2 linked regions of the Homo sapiens genome follow. The protein of the gene in region 1 purifies or fractionates together with the protein of each later gene. This does not show direct contact. Each region holds a gene or a part of one and is shown on either strand. Other genes may lie near its edges.

Region 1 (5,494 bases):
ACCCATTCTAACCAGGGAGCCATCTGGTCCAGCCCCCCGCCTCTGTGTCAGTCCAGATATGTGTCAGTGTGAGAAACAAACTCATCCGTCCAAACCCAAAGAATGGACTCAGAGACCTGGAGAACAGCGAAAGTGAGATTTTAATGACAGTCTTGCAAGATGGGTGTCTGATGGGCAGGCATGCCCAGCACAGCCACAACAAGCAATTTATCCTCTAGTGCACAGGTCCCTCCCTCCGTTCCTCACAGGCTGAGTACTATGGGGTCACGATCTTCCTGGACGTTGTCTATTGGTTGTTGGGTTGGGGCTTTAGGTGTTTTTTTTTAGGTTGTCTTGCTGCATTTTATTGCAGCCTACAATGCATTGCAATCCTAGTCAGCTCAAGGGCTCTTTAAGTATTTGACTTATGACCTAAGTAGCTGGGCAGGCTGATAAGAACAGAAAAAGTGAGCCATTTTGCAGGCTAGAAAACCTTCATTTTAGACTAAACTTCTTTGGTTCAGGTGAGGGCAAGAGAAGCTGGGGGCTGACAAGCAGGCACTGGCTATTCAAGCAAAGGGCTAGTATATCCTATTTCTTCTGTAGTTTGCTGACCTAAGCCAATTTAAAGCACTTTGTCTTGGAAATGGACCATTATATACATTATTTCCTTCATCAGGGGTTGCGAGGATTTATCCTGCCCTTTATCCCTTCTGGACTCAGGAATTCAGGACAGGCTAAGGATTCGGGAGGAGGTGGGGGTGAGTCAATCAGGATTGACCTTGGAGAGACATGGGATGATCGCAGCATTTCTAAGGAAGGGGGATTGGGTGGGACTGGAAGGAACCAGGAGGAGGTCAGGGGACTCCAGGTTGTGACAGGGTTCAAAGGTGGGCTAGGTAGGGCCAGCAGGGGAGCCCAAGTCAGGAGAGACTGGATTGCCTGAGCATTTACTCCCAGAGGGGCTGGGTGGGTAGCTGCCTGCCAACTCACCACTCTAATGTCCTCCCTTCCCTTCTTATTCTCTCCCTCTCACCCTTGTCCTCCGGGGTTTCCAGCTCTTTTTCTTCAAGGGGATTTAAAAATCTCTCCACTCTCATCAGTGTGAGTCTCTGGCCTTAGGCAGAAGGTAGGGTGGCCAGTCACCTGGCAGAGGCTAGGCTGGGCATAATTAGCTTGTGAGGTTAATTACAAACCAGTTCTTCAGCCTAGTCTTTGCCTGAACGTCCAGTCTCCACCAGCCCCTCAGAGCAAATGTCCACAGATTCATTAATTTCAGGGGAAGTTTCTTTGAGGCTTGCTTCAGGCACTTCTAATCTCAGGTCTTCCTGGGTCTATCACATGGTTTATTTATGTGTAAACACACATGTGTACACACACACACACACACACACACATATATATAAAGTTTTCTTTTCATGGTGAAAGTTTAGTTTATTTATGTGTAAACACACCTGTGTGTATATATATAAAGTTGTTTTCATGGTGAAAGTAATACATACTCATTGCAAAACAACCAAAAAATTAAGTAAATCGTAAATTGAAAATGGATTACTTGGCCAGGCGTGGTGGCTCATGCCTGTAATCCCAGTAGTTTGGGAGGCCGAGGTGAGTGGATCACCTGATGTCAGGAGTTGGAGACCAGCCTGGCCAACATGGTGAAACCCCGTGTCTACTAAAAATACAAAAATTAGCCAGGCATGGTGGCGGGTGCCTGTAATCCCAGCTACACGGGAGGCTGAGACAGGAGAACTGGTTGAACCTGGAAGGTGGAGGTTGCAGTGAGCCAAGATTGTGCCACTGTACTCCAGCTTGGGTGACAGAGCAAAACTCTGTCTCAAAAAAAAAGAAAAAAAAAAGAAAATGGATTACTTATACCCAATGCTACCATCTTTGTGTCTACCTTTCCAGACTTTTCTGTGCTTACATATACATAAAGATATAGAAATATACATTTTCAATAAAAATAGCATCATGCTTTATTTTAATTTTTATTATTATACTTTAAGTTCTAGGGTACATGTGCACAACGTGCAGGTTTGATACATAGGCATACATGTGCCATGTTGGTGTGCTGCACCCATCAACTTGTCATTTACATTAGGTATTTCTCCTAATGCTATCACTCCCCCCTCCCCCCACGCCCCCGACAGGCCCCGGTGTGTGATGTTCCCCGCCCTGTGCCCAAGTGATGTCATTGTTCAATTCCCACCTATGAGTGAGAACGCATCATGCTTTTTTTAATGCAACAGTATACCATGGGCATATTCCCCACAGGTAGTTGGAGCCATATCATCGGTGTACAGACTGCAGAGTATTCTGTAGCATGGTGGAATATGATAATTTCATCCATTCCCCATGGCCTCCCTCACAATAGAGCTCGTGCACCTACAGAACCTCACAGTGAGAAGTCACCACAGCGCACCACACTGTCCCTTTCCTTATCCCCTTTAACCCTGCCAGATTCTCGTTTGAGACACTGCTAATGGGCCCTCAGGGAGCCAAGGGTGGGCAGAATGAAGTAACTTAATGTGTGCTGGGTCTGGGCCCCCTTGCTGCCTGGTGACTCAGCCCACTCCCAGCTGTTCTCTCTTTTCTTTCCTTTGTGAGTGGGGAATCCCAGGGTGGGCGTGGGCATAGGATCCTGCCCTAAGTCCTGATGTCCCGTCTGGTCCCTACAGGAGTTGACAGAGCTGCAGTCCCAGATCTCCGACACATCTGTGGTGCTGTCCATGGACAACAGTCGCTCCCTGGACCTGGACGGCATCATCGCTGAGGTCAAGGCGCAGTATGAGGAGATGGCCAAATGCAGCCGGGCTGAGGCTGAAGCCTGGTACCAGACCAAGGTGTGAGGCCACCAGGGGCGTATTTCCTCCTGCCAGGGTCCTTGGTGGCAGCTTCCCTTACTCCTCAACTTGTCTCAAGCCTTCAGGGCCTGGGTCCCACTGTTCTGGCAGGCACCAGTGGTTTAAGTCTGTGGTGCTCAGCCCTGGAGAAAATCCCAAGATGGGAGGACAGGGCAGAGGAAATAGATATGGATTAATCATTATAATAGCTAAAATATGGCAAGTACTTACACAGTACTAGGCTCATGTAATTATTGACTCATGTAATCCACAGAACAGCCCTATTAGATAGGCATCATTATTACCCCCATTTTGTTTTATTTAATTTAATTTATTTTATTTCTATTTTTTGAGATGGAGTCTTGCTCTGTCACCCAGGCTGAAGTGCAGTGGTGCGATCTTGGCTCACTGCAACCTTTGCCTCCCTGGTTCATGTGATCCTCGTGCCTCAGCCTCCTGAGTAGCTGGGACTACAGGTGTGCACCACCATGCCTGGCTAATTTTTTTTGTATTTTGAGTAGAGACGAGGTTTCACCATGCTGGCCAGGCTGGTCTCAAACTCCTGACCTCAGGTGATCCACCTGCCTCGGCCTCCCAAAGTGCTGGGATTATAGGCGTGAGACACCGCACCCAGCCTATTACCCCCATTTAAAGATGAGGAAATTGAGGCACAGAGAGGTTAAGTAATTTGCCTAACTGCATACAGCTAGTAGATGGAAGAGCAGGGACTAAATCCTGAATGTGAGGGCCCTAGACCTGGGAGGCTTAATCATCACATCTACTTCATGGTGGCAGGACAGTTGATGGTGCAGGGGCTGAGGGAGCAGGAGTGGGTGCTGGGGTGAACCAGTGTTCCTGAAGAAGGGATCCCGAGGCAAGGATTGAGAGGTCTGCCCCTGCAGAGATAGAGAGTCATTCATGGTGCCTGGGTGAGAACACAAGTATGCCAACAAGAAGACCTGGGTTCAGGCCCTCGTTCCATCACTGATTGGCTGTGTGATCCCTGGGTGGTGCTTTCTCTTCTCCAAGACTCACTCTCCTCACCTGTGAAATGGGTGTTCTGGGTGTTGAATGGGTGCGAATCTCAAACTCTCAGTGATTCTCCAGCAGAAGGGCATGGTGGGAGTGGAAGAGCCCTGGGGTCCATGGGGATGGGACTGCGGAGCCTTGTCTGTCCTCCCTGCCTGGCTTGGAGGAGAATGAATCCCTTCCTCACACTGCTGTCTGGTCTCCTGGCATCGGGCAAAGGTTGATGGGAGTCAGACTGTCCTTCCCTGAAAATATAAGTTGGGAGGGGCCTTGGGTGGGGAGAGGGATGAGTTACCTGTACTCACTGCCCATCTCTCTGCCATAACTCTCTGTATGGCCCCTCCAGTTTGAGACCCTCCAGGCCCAGGCTGGGAAGCATGGGGACGACCTCCGGAATACCCGGAATGAGATTTCAGAGATGAACCGGGCCATCCAGAGGCTGCAGGCTGAGATCGACAACATCAAGAACCAGGTGGGACAAGTCCTCCTGGCTTCCCCTGCTACTTGGGGCATGCAGGGGTGGCCAGCTGAGGCCAAACTCAGGATGTGGAGCAGGAGGTTCCCATCTCCCGGCCAAAGCTGGTGCCACTGTCTCAGACCCCCTTGTGAGATCTCCAGCACAGAATGTTCTTGGCCAGGTCCTGGCATGGGCTGATGGGAGAAAGGTCCTGGATGTGCACAGAGCCTGTGGAGGGAGACTCAGGCTGGCTGGCCAGAAGAAAGCCACCACTGGTTCCACATTGATACTGAGCACTCTGCTTGCACCTGGTTCTGGCTGCAGGGCGCTGTCCCTGGGAGCTCATCATTCATTGCAGGGACAGAGGACAGCAGAAGACCTTATAATGACTCACATGGCCCTTTCCCACCCACTCCAACCTCACTTTCCACGATTCCCCTCACTCTGCTCTGGCCATGCTAACCTGCTTCCTGCATCTTGCATTTGCCAAGAATGGTCATGCTTCAGGGCCTTTGCACTTGGCGTTGCCTCCCCCTGGAATGTGGTTCTCCCAGCTCTGTCCATGGTTGTTGTTTTCTCCTCCCTGGGGTTTAGGAAAAGACCCCTTCTCAGAGACGGCACTCTCAAACACCAGCCCCTCTATCGGCAGCCTGTCTGAAGTTCTTTGAAGCCCCTGTCACTCTCTGAAATGTTCTGTCTTATTCATTAAGTGATTGATGGTCCCTACCTCCACTGGAATATAACAGATGCCTGGAGAGCAGGGACCCTGTCTGTCTGGTTCACTGCTCCTCTCTTCCAGCACCTGGCACATGGCAGGGGCACGGGTCTCAGATGAGAGACTGCCTGGGAGGATGAGCTTTGCTGGAAGCTGGGGTTGGAGGTGTTGATGGGGGAAGGGCCCCCAGCCCTGGCTGAGTAGTGTGTGGCCAGGGCAGCTCAGCCTGTGCAGGTGTCTGCAGTGGAGAGAGGGGGAGGGCACACATGTGGAAGCTTCGGAAAGCTGATTTCCAGATGAGCTGTGGGTGGTGGGGGGATGTGAGGGTGATTTACCCACAAATGTCCTCCCCTTGGAGCCCTGTGGGCCTGTTTACAGGAGGGCGGAGGCTGCCTTGGGGCACAGAGGCAGGGCCGTGAGTCACCCCATGAAGTGGGCCAGCTTCCAGGCCAGGAGGGGAAGCACAGA
Region 2 (4,496 bases), on another chromosome or scaffold:
TAACTCTTAAACAATATGATATTTTCTTTGTGGTTGCATACCTTTCCTGAGGTCATAAACCTGCCACTGATATCAACGCCAACAGCCTCTGCAGATATTTTCTCATTGCCCAAAGGAGGTTCTGACTTACCAGAACTGATTTTCTTTCTTTGTTGTGATGGAATCTAAAAAAAAAGGTATTAGTCAAAATAACAAATTTTGTGTGAAAGCATAATTATATATTAAAATTCCATTAACATTTAAATTTTCATATATGAAATATAGCTGACAAATAATGAGACTCTAATGAGACTACATGACTTTTAAAAACTAAGAAGTAATGAAAATGTATTATGTTTGAACTATTAGTTTAACACTAGGAGTTCCCAGTCACAGGTGTATAAAACAAGAGAGTAGTATTTAAAATAAACAACAAGCTTTATAAGGTTACTCAAATCTTTGAATAATACAGTAATTACACTATGAAATAATTTGCTGTCTAGGGTTTTGATTTTATACATTAAAATACTGAGCCATCTATTAATAGCATACATCAGCATTAATATCTATTCATAAAATTACCTTCTGAAGACTGCTTAATTCCTTGTGCTTTTTCATCACACAATTCAAAATATCACAAACAATTTGGATTTTCCATTCTGCAAACCCACATTGGATAAACTGCTTTTTTGTCAAAATTGGTTTATAATTAAATTGATCACGAAGAAGCTGCAGAGGAAACAGACTCTTGTAATAATTGGGAGCAATTTATTTCTAAAATTCCAAATGATAATGCCCACCTGGTCAGGGGAATAATGGCCACCTTTGAGAGGACAAGGAAAACCAAGCCATTAACTAAAGAGTACTAAAGTAATTCATAGGGCTGGTGTTAAGTCATGATCCAGTAAGACAGGTATCAGGTGGAAAACAGGTAGCAAAGGATATGCTGGAGAACAGATGTCTGTCCAGAGAGATGGAAAAATATAGTCAATCATCAAAAAGTGTAAATATCTTCAGAGATATTAGAAAAACTTCTTAGTTCACTAGAATACCATACCAGAGTCAGAAACTATAGTTCTATTTGTTTATAACTCTTCCACTATGTGATTTTTGGATACGTCAGTAGGCCTTTTGGTCTCAATTTTTCATTTGTAAAATGAAAAAAAACACACTAGATCAGTAGTTTCCTAAATCTACTCTGTGGAGCTCTAGAATTTCTTAAAAGTGCCTCTTAGGCTTCCATGGATGTCTTCTGGGATCAAAAGCAAGAAAGAGAAAGATTAAACAGAGACTACATATAAAAGCTCCCATTTCATTGACTGCAACTCTGCTTTTTTTAAAAGACTATTTGAGGCTGGGTGCGGTGGCTCATGCCTGTAATGCCAGCACTTTGGGAGGCCAAGGTGGGCAGAGCACAAGGTCAGGAGATCGAGACCATCCTGGCCAACATGGTGAAACCCTCTCTACTAAAATACAAAAAATTAGCCAGGCGTGGTCACGGTGCACGCCTGTAGTCCCAGCTACTCAGGAGGTTGAGGCAGGGGAACTGCTTGAACCCAGGAGGCGGAGACTGCAGTGAGCCTAGATCGTGACACTGCACTCCAGCCTGGTGACAGAGCAAGACTCTGTCTCAAAAAAAAAAAAAAAATAGACTACATTTGATAAGTGGGTTTTTACCATTAAAAACTAACTTTAATACAAACCACAGTACTTAAGCAAAAATTAATGATAAAAGCAGGGTTTTAAAAAAATCAAATAAGAGATTAAATTCAGTATACACATAGTACAAGTATAAATACTAGGGTAGATACAATATAAGACATGCTCTCAGACCTCAAAGAATATATCAGTTTAATAAAAAAAAAATGTCAGTAATAGTTCCTTCTTACAAACAACTAAATTAACATATAATTCTAAAAAACTGTAAGTTTTATTGAATATAATTACATTACTCTCTAATTTCTGCCAGTATATCAAATTTTACTAAAATTTGATTAAAAAGGGCAAACAATAGCCAACAACAAATATTTACCAGTTGCTGTATTTATTAGAATAGGTAACATTCAAAAAGCAAACATGAATTGCATCTTGATTTCAATAGAGACTACATTTAAATGAGATAAATACAAATGAAAATATCCTGTCAATTGTATATGCTGCATATATTTAAGAAGTTATGACTAAATCATTAATTTTTAAAAATCATTCAATAACTAATAGTTATTGTTTGATAAACTCAAAATACCTTATAGACAGCATCTATAAAGCGCAAGTCATTTTTTGCTATGAGCTCTACATTGGATTCCATTATAAGTTCTGTTACATAAGGTGAGTATGAGGTAAAAGAATAGCTGATGATGGGCAAAGATGCTGCTGGGTCTCCCTTTATCAAACTGTTAGGAAAAAAAGAAAAATATTTTTAATAAGCATTTAATAAGCATAATTCCACAAAGTTGGATAATCAAGAAAATATTAGAAATGTTTATAATAATTTAAAACTTAACACTATAGCTATAATAATTAGGTGATACATGAGACTTTCTAGATTCCATTCCCCATTTGAAACCAGTCTAGCCAGACTACTATGAAATACCACTGTTCGTCTGCTCAAAAAACTTACTATAGGTCTCTAGTACCAACTATTTACCATTGATTTTCCAAAGCTTAGTCTTACGTGATCTACTCCATTTTCTACTACTAATAAAAGCAATGTACCATCTTACAAAATTGAAGTACACTTTATGGTTTTGCAAACACTTGTTCTATTACCTCCTTTGCTCTCTACCACAAACTTCCAAAGGTAAATATTATGAATTCTAAGTTACAGATGAGGAAGATGGGATGGGAAAAAGCATGAACTGTGACTTGGTTGACCAGTCTATTACTTTTCACTTACTGCTCCTTCTAAATCGTATATTATTACCTATGTTAATTCCACCAGTCTAGAAAGGTATCCCACTCTTCTTTGCTTATCCAATTATTATTTATTTTTTACAAATCATTCATCAAATCTCAAGCTTCCCATGAAGCTTTCCTCAACTTTCTGATCTATACTGATCTCTCCAAGAAAGACTCCCAGGCTACTCAGTATCTGCTGTGTCTTTATCTGTCTGGTAGTGTTTCCTGTCTTATTTTCTCAATGTGAAGTACCTTCACTGATTTTCCCACAACAAAGCACAGGAGGTATTTGTTCAATTTGCCAGTTACATTTGTTCAATTGCAGTATTTTGTACTTATATAAAGCAAATGTTTTCCAAAAAATTCAAGATGTTCACATAAACATCCCCATCTCCACCCAAATTTTTAGTAAGACAGAGAACAAATACATGATGATAGCACTGCATTTTGTTTTACTGGACAAATATGAATTATTTCTTTTATGTTTCTTTGAAATACTGTAATATTTCACCCAATCAGAAAACTCCTCTGGCAACCTTGTCTATCTGAAACACAGTCCAAAAACAGGAAATGAAAAAAAAAATACCTTTGAACAGCAAAATCTGTCCATTTTATGCACACTATACATAGATGATAGCCAGGCACACATTTAACACTTTTTATGTTAAACAATTTCAAAAATCTTGATTATCTAGTTCCTAAGGACTTAGCATATTAGAAACAGTAAGAAAAACAGATGCCAACACAAAAAACAGCAAATGGCCAGAAAACATAACAAATGTGAAAAAGTAGAAAAAAGAATCAAAATGATGGGGGTGTTGTGTGTGTGCTTAAATGTGTGTGGCAGGGAGACTAGCAATCTGAGTGCCTCTGTGGAAGAAGCAAGTAGCATTTCAAATCTCAATAGACCCTGCAGATTTTAGTATGTTATATAATAATCTAAAAATTGTTGTTCTTAATGATGCTTTTGGGTAATAAGAAAATTAAATGTTTAAACACTGTATTTAGAAAACAAGATAATACTGGTATATTTTAGAATTATTCCTATTTAAAATGTCTTTTAAAATGTTGACACTTAAAGTGGCAAGGAGAAGACTTGGCTACTCAAACTGGTTAAACCCCTGCAAGTTCTGGATGGTCAGGATTTTCATGTTTTGAGGAATCAAGATGATTTTTACATACATGGATTACATCTGTTTCATATCTTCTGCCTCTCACATATAATGCCTATAATAACAGCAACTTGAGCTAAACTTTCTCCTTACTCTCCTCTCTATCCTTTCACTTTCAGCCTTCTCTTGAGTTACCTCTCCCTACTGTAACCTCAAGAGTTATTAGAATATCCATTCTTATATGGATATCCATTCTTATATGTAAAGCCCATTACTGAAGGATTCTACTTACAAGTTTCCCTCTACTCTTGAACATCTAACTTGGACTTGTCCCTGGACACTCATTCATTCAATAAATGTCTAATCAACTCCTAATATGTGCCATGCATAATTCTAGATGGGGGGATTCCACAGTGAAAACAAAAAACAAAGTCCAAGACTTCAGCTTACATTCTAGTAACCAATGAACATTTAACCAATCCATCAATTAATCAATGATAAAAGGTT

What was found. Proteins that work in one complex are often made in the same cells at the same time.
Region 2: the proteins of KRT7 (region 1) and CEP44 purify together in Homo sapiens (affinity purification with mass spectrometry; one large-scale study listed by BioGRID and IntAct). This does not show direct contact.

Annotation. Positions count from the first base shown.
Region 1 is NC_000012.12:52,238,812-52,244,305, forward strand, and holds part of KRT7 (keratin, type II cytoskeletal 7), read left to right. Parts: intron 1-2,660; coding exon 2,661-2,825; intron 2,826-4,200; coding exon 4,201-4,326; intron 4,327-5,494.
Region 2 is NC_000004.12:174,299,915-174,304,410, reverse strand, and holds part of CEP44 (centrosomal protein of 44 kDa), read right to left. Parts: intron 2,373-4,496; coding exon 2,225-2,372; intron 709-2,224; coding exon 562-708; intron 165-561; coding exon 42-164; intron 1-41. UniProt on the Homo sapiens protein: Centriole-enriched microtubule-binding protein involved in centriole biogenesis. In collaboration with CEP295 and POC1B, is required for the centriole-to-centrosome conversion by ensuring the formation of bona fide centriole wall.